Linked DNA regions of Homo sapiens. The protein of the gene in region 1 interacts with the protein of each later gene in a biochemical or structural test. Each region holds a gene or a part of one and is shown in the gene's direction. Other genes may lie near its edges.

Region 1 (4,105 bases):
CTCAGCCTCAGCCCCGATGTCAGCACTGAGGCCTCACCCCCCAGAGCTTCCCAGGACATTCCTTGCTTGGACAGCAGTGCCCCTGAGAGTGGCACACCTATGGGTGCCCTGGGCGACTGGCCTGCCCCTATTGAGGAGCGTGAGAGCCCGGCAGCCCAGCCCCTGCTGGAACACCAGTACTGAGCTACCTGGCGCCCACTGGACCACCTCCTAGGATTCAGTAACGGACCTGCTCTGCTGCCTCTCTGCTGGACCACAGAACTGAGTGGCTTTGGCCTACATGTCTGAACCCTGACCTTTGGCTGCCTTGGCCAGAGTACCAAAACTGAGTGACCCAGACCTCTGACCTTGACCCCTGATCTCTCTCATCCCCAGTCCAGGGCCTGGGCTCCCCAGATGGAGGCAGTCAGCCTCCCAGCCAGGCCCTAAGAGCCAAACCATGGGCTGGTCCCACTTGGAGCCTGTGGCCAGGACCACCTCAGCCCCTGGGCCTGCACTGCCTGCAGGTGTGGCCCCCTTGGCCTGGACCTGGGGCCTGAATTGTGGGAAGGGTGGTTTCTTTCTTTCCTTTTTTTTCTTTTCTTTTTTTTTTTTTTTTTTGTGCTTCGGAGACATCAGAATTAATAACACTATTTTTGATTTTGGTTGGCAGTTTCTTTTTCTACCTGGGAATGGGTACATGATAGTACAGGCGGCTAAGTTGGGATGGACAAGCACGCAGAGGGGTGAAGGATGTGGGGCTGAAGTCTAGTAGAGATCAAGGGCAGACCAAGGTGGGGTTCAGGTAGAACCGGGTCCTCTTCACCGCATGGCTGCTCCCTTTTCAAGCCTTTATCTGAAGGGTATTGTCTGCCATTTCCCACCATATGGTCAGACTTCCAGGTCTGGTGGCTCCTACATTTATCAGGCTTGTTCTTGGCCAAAGCCTTTCTCTGCACCTCAGCTGCTCCAGGGCGTAAAGAGATGACACCTATCTAAGGTGTTTTTAGAATAAATGAGAGCGCGCTAGTGGAATGGTTGCCCAGGGCCCAGTGCTTAGCAAGTGCTCCATAAAATAGTGGCAGACTCTTGAGCACCTGCTGGCCGGGAGCTGGACGCTAGGTGGCCTCCGCTAGCCCTCCCGGTTGGTCTGGAAGGCAGGCACAAGTTTCTCAGGAGAGGAAATGGCCTTAGAATGAGCACTGCTCGGTGCTGACCTCCGCCAGGCCTGGAATCCCCGCTGCTGCGCTTCCCGCCGCAGACAGCTCCCGGCCGGCCCCGCCTCCCGGCATGGCCCCGCCTCCCAGCATGGCCCCGCCCCCAGGCGGAGCCGGCGCCGGGAGCGGTAGCGGGAGAGCGGCAGCGGGACCCCAGCGCGGGCGGCGGCGGCTGGGCGGGAGCCCCAGAGGTACTGGCGGGAGCAGGGGACGGGAGGCACTACTGTCGGGCCCGACAGGGGAGAGGTGGCCTAGCCGTGGGCCCGGGTGATGTGTATGGGAGTGGGGTCCTCGCCACGTTCGCCGCCAGCACCCTCCCAACTTCCCTCCGGGCTCCAGCTCAGTCCCGAGTCAATATGTCCAGCCCCCTGTCTCTGACCAGCCGTTCCTACTCTCTCTGTGTGACGGCTTAGCCTGGCCAGCCAGCCGGTGAGTGGAAGCGGCGGCTCCTGACTCCTGGTGGCGGCACTGTGACCCCCTCCCCCTCAACACTGCAAGTGTGTGCGGGGCTCCCCCTTATTCTGAGGCTCCTCTTCTTCTTAGGCGGCCTCCACCCCAGTCCCTGGCCTGGCCTGGGAGGAAACATCTGTCGCGCCCCCTGGCAGCCGAAATGGGGTCATGACCTCCAGATGTGCTGGGAAGTGGCCAGCTCCTCCTCCTGGGGCAGCCAGGCCTTCCGGATCTGTGGGGGCGGGGCCGGCCCTTTCCCCCCACCCCTAGTGACACAGGCCCGGAGGAATGTCCTAGCCTCAATGGACCCTGTGTGAAGCTTCAGGGTGGGGGGCAGAGCCCGAGAACACCCCTCAAGGCAGCGCCAGAGCCTGGCACTGGGCCACAGCAAGAGGCAGCGCACAGGCTGGGTGCACACATGCACAGATCTCACTTCCAAGCGTGCAGAGCTCAGCCCACAAGGAGCGGGGCTTGCACAGACCCCCTCCCTCATGCCCTCCTACTCCTTCACACACTATAGCCCAGGCCCGAGCGCTGAATGTGCCCAGAGCTTGGCTCATGGAGCCAGGGGCTACACCCGTCACACACACACATAGCTAGCGACACTCACCTCATTCTTCTCAGTCTCTCAGCAGCCTTGGGAGGGGACAGAAATAATTAAACCCAATTTTTTTCTTTGTTTTTTTGGAGACAGTCTCACTCTGTCCCGCAGGCTGGAGTTCAGTGGCGCGATCTCGGCTCACTGCAACCTCTGCCTCCCAGGTTTAAGCGATTCTCCTGCCTCAGCCTCCTGAGTGGCTGGGACTACAGGTGCGCACCACCACACCCGGCTAATTTTTATGTTTTTAGTAGAGACAGGGTTTCACCATGTTAGCTAGGCTGGTCTTGAACTCCTGACCTCAGGTGATCCCCCCGCCTTGGCCTCCCAAAGTGCTGGGATTACAGGCCACAGCCACCGCACCCGGCCAGTTAACCCCATTTTAGAGATGAGAAAACAGAGGCTCAAGGTCAGCATGGGAGTTTATTCAGGAGAAATCAAGGTAGAAGCACCTGGGCTGGGGAGCCGACTCTTGCTTGGTTCTGGAGGCCCCAGACGAAGGGTGTGTGGAGCCCCTCCTCCACCCCCCTCCGGCCCAGCCCCGCATGATGTTGCTGGATGCTGCATGAAGACCCACCATTAGATGCCTGTACCCCCAGTGGAGGTTCCCCAGCTCCCTGTCCTCACTGCCTACTCCATCCAGGGCTTGCCTGGGTGTGGCTTCCCTCAAGTTCTCACACCACCATTTGCACCTGCCTCTGGCGTCACGTTTCCGCACTTAGCAGGTCCCTGGGGCTTTGGGTGTCTCAATCTTGCATCCTGTGAGACCTTGAACCTCAGCCCAACACCCACCCCCCAAAACCTACGCACACAGACAGCAGTGGGCAGGTGCAGCCCTGCTTAGGGCCTGGAGATGGGCAGACCCAGGCTCACATCCTAGCTCTGACACGGAATTGCTTCAGGCAAGAGCATCTCCTCTGGACCTCATCTGACCATCTGTCACATGGGGTTCAGACCTCCCTGTCTGCATCAGTGAGACCAGGTAGGCAGAGGTCCCTATGGGTCCCTGTCATTGTGACTCCTCTTGCCCCCAAGCCTGGGCACAGTAGCCTGCAAGAAGGTGAGTTGGCCTGTCCTTCAGGGCAGGGTGACTGGGGTCCCATGACAGCTGCTGTGACCCCAGCACCTTCCTCAGGATGTGGGGGCCTGGCAGAGGGCTGGGCCCACAGTTGGGGCTACTTCCTGTGCTGAAGGAAGTCCTCTTGCCATTCCTGCTGCCCTGCCGCTGCCTCCCTGGGAACCCATGTGTCCTTGTGGTATTGAGGCCTTGAGGTCCAGGGCACTGAGATCAGACCTCTCTGGGTGATCAGCTCTCCAGGGACCCTGAAGGAAGTGGGAGGGGCAAGGAGGAAGGTCTCTGGGGACAGGACGTCCTCCCTTTGTTAAGTGGGCAGGACCCAGACACCAGTGGCCCCTGGGTTTCCCGTCCCAGCCAATACAAGTCATCTGTCCGGTTGGGCTAGGTCCTGGTGGGACCCTTACTCTGGGCCCAGGCCAAAGCTAAGGTGTGTGGGTGGCGACTGGGGGACCCTGGCAGTCCCAGGGCTGCCCAGGCTCCAGGACCCTCAGGACCAAGACCCAACAGCCCAGCCTCTAGCCTTGCCCAGCTAAGCTGGGGAGGGGGCTGGAAACTTTAGCCCTAGGCAGACAAGGAAGTGGCCTGGAAAGCGGAAGCAGCTTTGATGGTCTCGGAGGGGGCCGGAAGCCAACACGGGTGGTGGAGGACCAGGCTGGGGGCCTGGGTTCCTGTTTTCTGCCCAGGCCCCTCTGAGCAGCCCCCTCCTCCTTCAGGGCAGGAACTGCTGCCACAACCTCAGGCTGGGCACCAAACACCCGTGCCCGCCAATGCGGCCCAGCCCCC
Region 2 (3,278 bases), on another chromosome or scaffold:
GATAATCGTTCATAGACAAAAAGATGTGCATATGTTTTTAACAGCAATTATTTGTTTTTCTCACAGCAGGAATCCCAGCTCCAGTGTATTTTGGAGTTTTGATTGATACTTCATGCCTCAAATGGGGATTTAAAAGATGTGGAAGTAGAGGATCATGCAGATTATATGATTCAAATGTCTTCAGGTACCAAATCAAAAGCATTCCCGCATCTCATTGCTACAGCATCCCAGATTTACACAATGCCACTGACACTAACAAGTTTTCATGTCATTTCACTGCTTGTAAGGTAAAGAATAGTCTAATCAAAAAGTGTGATCTGTAGTCATAGAATAATTATATTATTATTTGATTAGATCTTTGATTTTGTCCCTATTCATTACCTTGACCCCCATTTTAAATGAGTAATCATTTTTAAAATATGACAAAAGTGTCCAGAATACAGTAGAATTTTGAAAGTTTATGCACACAAATGGGCAAGTATTTCCCTGAAATTCAGAGGCATTTAAATTTAGGTCACATTTTGGGTTTGATTTTTATTCTTTTTCAAACTGAGCCAAACTGTACCACTTACGTCAGATATAATACCCCTGGGCAAGAGTTGGATTTGGCTCTAAATCTGTCCGGCTTTTATTGCCAAACTAATGTTCAATTATTCTCGTACTTGAAATGCATGAAAGTAAAAGGTTTTCTCTGTGTGGGTGAGTGTATATGGGGGTTGGGTGGCGTGGCTTTTTCACTATGGTATCATTCAGTTCAGCTCATTAAACATTTAGTCCCTTATTGCTTAAAAAAATGCAAAAAGCATTGAAGCAATGGCTTAAAAGCAAGAAAGATTGTTTAAAAGACTTACAAACTGAGCATTTTCTGGAGAAATAAACTTGGTACTGAACCATCTAAGTTGGATGTGAATTGGGCACACCATTTTGAATAAATTTGTTTGAGTTAATAGGTTTTGATGCTATGCGTGAAATTTATTTTGGTCTTTGAAAGGGACCCAATCTGTGAGTATAATTTAGTATTTCCTCACATTTTTGCTAAGGCTGTATTAACTGTAATGTAGAGACAATGCAACTCAATCAGAGATTGAGAGTATGTTTTCAAGGTAACCAGAATGAGACATTCAACCTGTTCTTCCATACCTTAGCATCTTCTGACAAAGCATAGAACTATAGGTTTCTCATGAAATAAACTGATTTAAATCTCTGGTTTATTCTGAAATCATTCTGCTTTACTCAGAGCTCCAATTCCCATTAGCATTTCTTTATGCAAGTTTTCCAAAGAAATGAAGTTGGGAAAGGTCTGAGGATAGGGTAGCCACATAATTTATCATTCAAAACTGGGTACTTTTGAGTGTGAAAAGGAGCACTATTAAAATTATACTGGGCCAGCACTAGCATAAACTGGGGCTGTTCTAGGCAAACAGGGATATGGTTACCTGGTCTAAGGAAATAATTTACAGAGAGGATGAAACTGATTATGTAATTAGTAGTAACTAAAAATGATGGTGCTACTAAGACATTGCTTTATTTTATAAACTGCCTTCAACAGTCTGTCAGTATTTCATAAAACAGTCTTTTATATAAGCCACCAAATCTACATTCTTAAAGAAAACCATCAGTATGATATTATTACCTTTTAAATTTTCTTTCAAGTTGGTTGTTGCATTAATTATAACAGAGATTCTCTCTTCTTCTAGACATATATATCTGGGACTAACTGTGATACTGGGCACAGTGTCAATTCTCCTAAGCATTGCAGTACTTTTCATTTTAAAGAAAAATTATGTTTCAAAACACAGAAGTTTTATAACCAAGAGAGAAAGAACAATGGTGTCTACAAGATTCCAAAAGGAAAATTACACTACAAGTGATCATCTGCTACAACCCAACTACTGGCCAGGCAAGGAAACTCAACTTTAGAAACATGATGACTGGAAGTCATGTCTTCTAATTGGTTGACATTTTGCAAACAAATAAATTGTAATCAAAAGAGCTCTAAATTTGTAATTTCTTTCTCCTTTCAAAAAATGTCTACTTTGTTTTGGTCCTAGGCATTAGGTAATATAACTGATAATATACTGAAACATATAATGGAAGATGCAGATGATAAAACTAATTTTGAACTTTTTAATTTATATAAATTATTTTATATCACTTACTTATTTCACTTTATTTTGCTTTGTGCTCATTGATATATATTAGCTGTACTCCTAGAAGAACAATTGTCTCTATTGTCACACATGGTTATATTTAAAGTAATTTCTGAACTGTGTAATGTGTCTAGAGTAAGCAAATACTGCTAACAATTAACTCATACCTTGGGTTCCTTCAAGTATTACTCCTATAGTATTTTCTCCCATAGCTGTCTTCATCTGTGTATTTTAATAATGATCTTAGGATGGAGCAGAACATGGAGAGGAAGATTTCATTTTAAGCTCCTCCTTTTCTTTGAAATACAATAATTTATATAGAAATGTGTAGCAGCAAATTATATTGGGGATTAGAATTTTGAATTAATAGCTCTCCTACTATTAATTTACATGTGCTTTTTGTGTGGCGCTATAAGTGACTATGGTTGTAAAGTAATAAAATTGATGTTAACATGCCCAATTATTGTTCTTTTATGAATCCAATGAATTTAAAACTATTGTTAAATATAATACTGCCCCACTTTAATATATGTAAGCAACTTCCTACTTATACACGACGTGTTCCTAAAACATGTTTGAAAGGTGAATTTCTGAAAGTCTACAATAAATGTAGGTGTTACAACAGGAATGGAGAGTGATGGATGAATTGATGGGAAGTCTGAGTGTGGTACCTTTTGGTGCTCCACAGGCCCACATCACAGGGCCTAGGGACTCCTGCACAGGGAGTTCCCCCTGGGACAGCCTGCCAGATAGCTCTGTTTCTCTGCAACTGAAAAAGTCAAGCCAAGAGTTTCTTTTCTTTTTTTTTTAAGACATAGTCTCACTCTGTTGCCCAGGCTGGAGTGCAATGGCGCGATCTCGGCTCACTGCAAGCTCCGCCTCCCGCGTTCACGCCATTCTCCTGCCTCAGCCTCCTGAGTAGCTGGGACTATCAGCGCCCGCCACCATGCCCGGCTAATTTTTTGTATTTTTAGTAGAAACGGGGTTTCACCGTGTTAGCCAGGATGATCTTGATTTCCTGACCTCGTGATCCACCCGCCTCGGCCTCCCAAAGTGCTGAGATTACAGGTGTGAGCCACCACGCCCGGCCAAGAGTTTCTTCTTTCCTGACTTCCTGATGCTCTTCTG

Evidence for each region. The genes of interacting proteins can lie anywhere in the genome.
Region 2: the proteins of SIPA1 (region 1) and SLCO1C1 interact in a test that uses a peptide from one of them, tested with the Homo sapiens proteins (one large-scale study listed by IntAct).

The regions. Positions count from the first base shown.
Region 1 is NC_000011.10:65,636,796-65,640,900, forward strand, and holds the start of SIPA1 (signal-induced proliferation-associated protein 1), read left to right. Parts: upstream 1-1,305; 5' UTR 1,306-1,387; exon of another isoform or gene 1,388-4,035; 5' UTR 4,036-4,105. Other genes in the region: PCNX3 (pecanex-like protein 3), read left to right, coding at 1-183. UniProt on the Homo sapiens protein: GTPase activator for the nuclear Ras-related regulatory proteins Rap1 and Rap2 in vitro, converting them to the putatively inactive GDP-bound state. Affects cell cycle progression.
Region 2 is NC_000012.12:20,750,609-20,753,886, forward strand, and holds the end of SLCO1C1 (solute carrier organic anion transporter family member 1C1), read left to right. Parts: intron 1-66; coding exon 67-184; coding exon of another isoform or gene 185-287; intron 288-1,697; coding exon 1,698-1,920; 3' UTR 1,921-2,778; downstream 2,779-3,278. UniProt on the Homo sapiens protein: Mediates the Na(+)-independent high affinity transport of organic anions such as the thyroid hormones L-thyroxine (T4), L-thyroxine sulfate (T4S), and 3,3',5'-triiodo-L-thyronine (reverse T3, rT3) at the plasma membrane.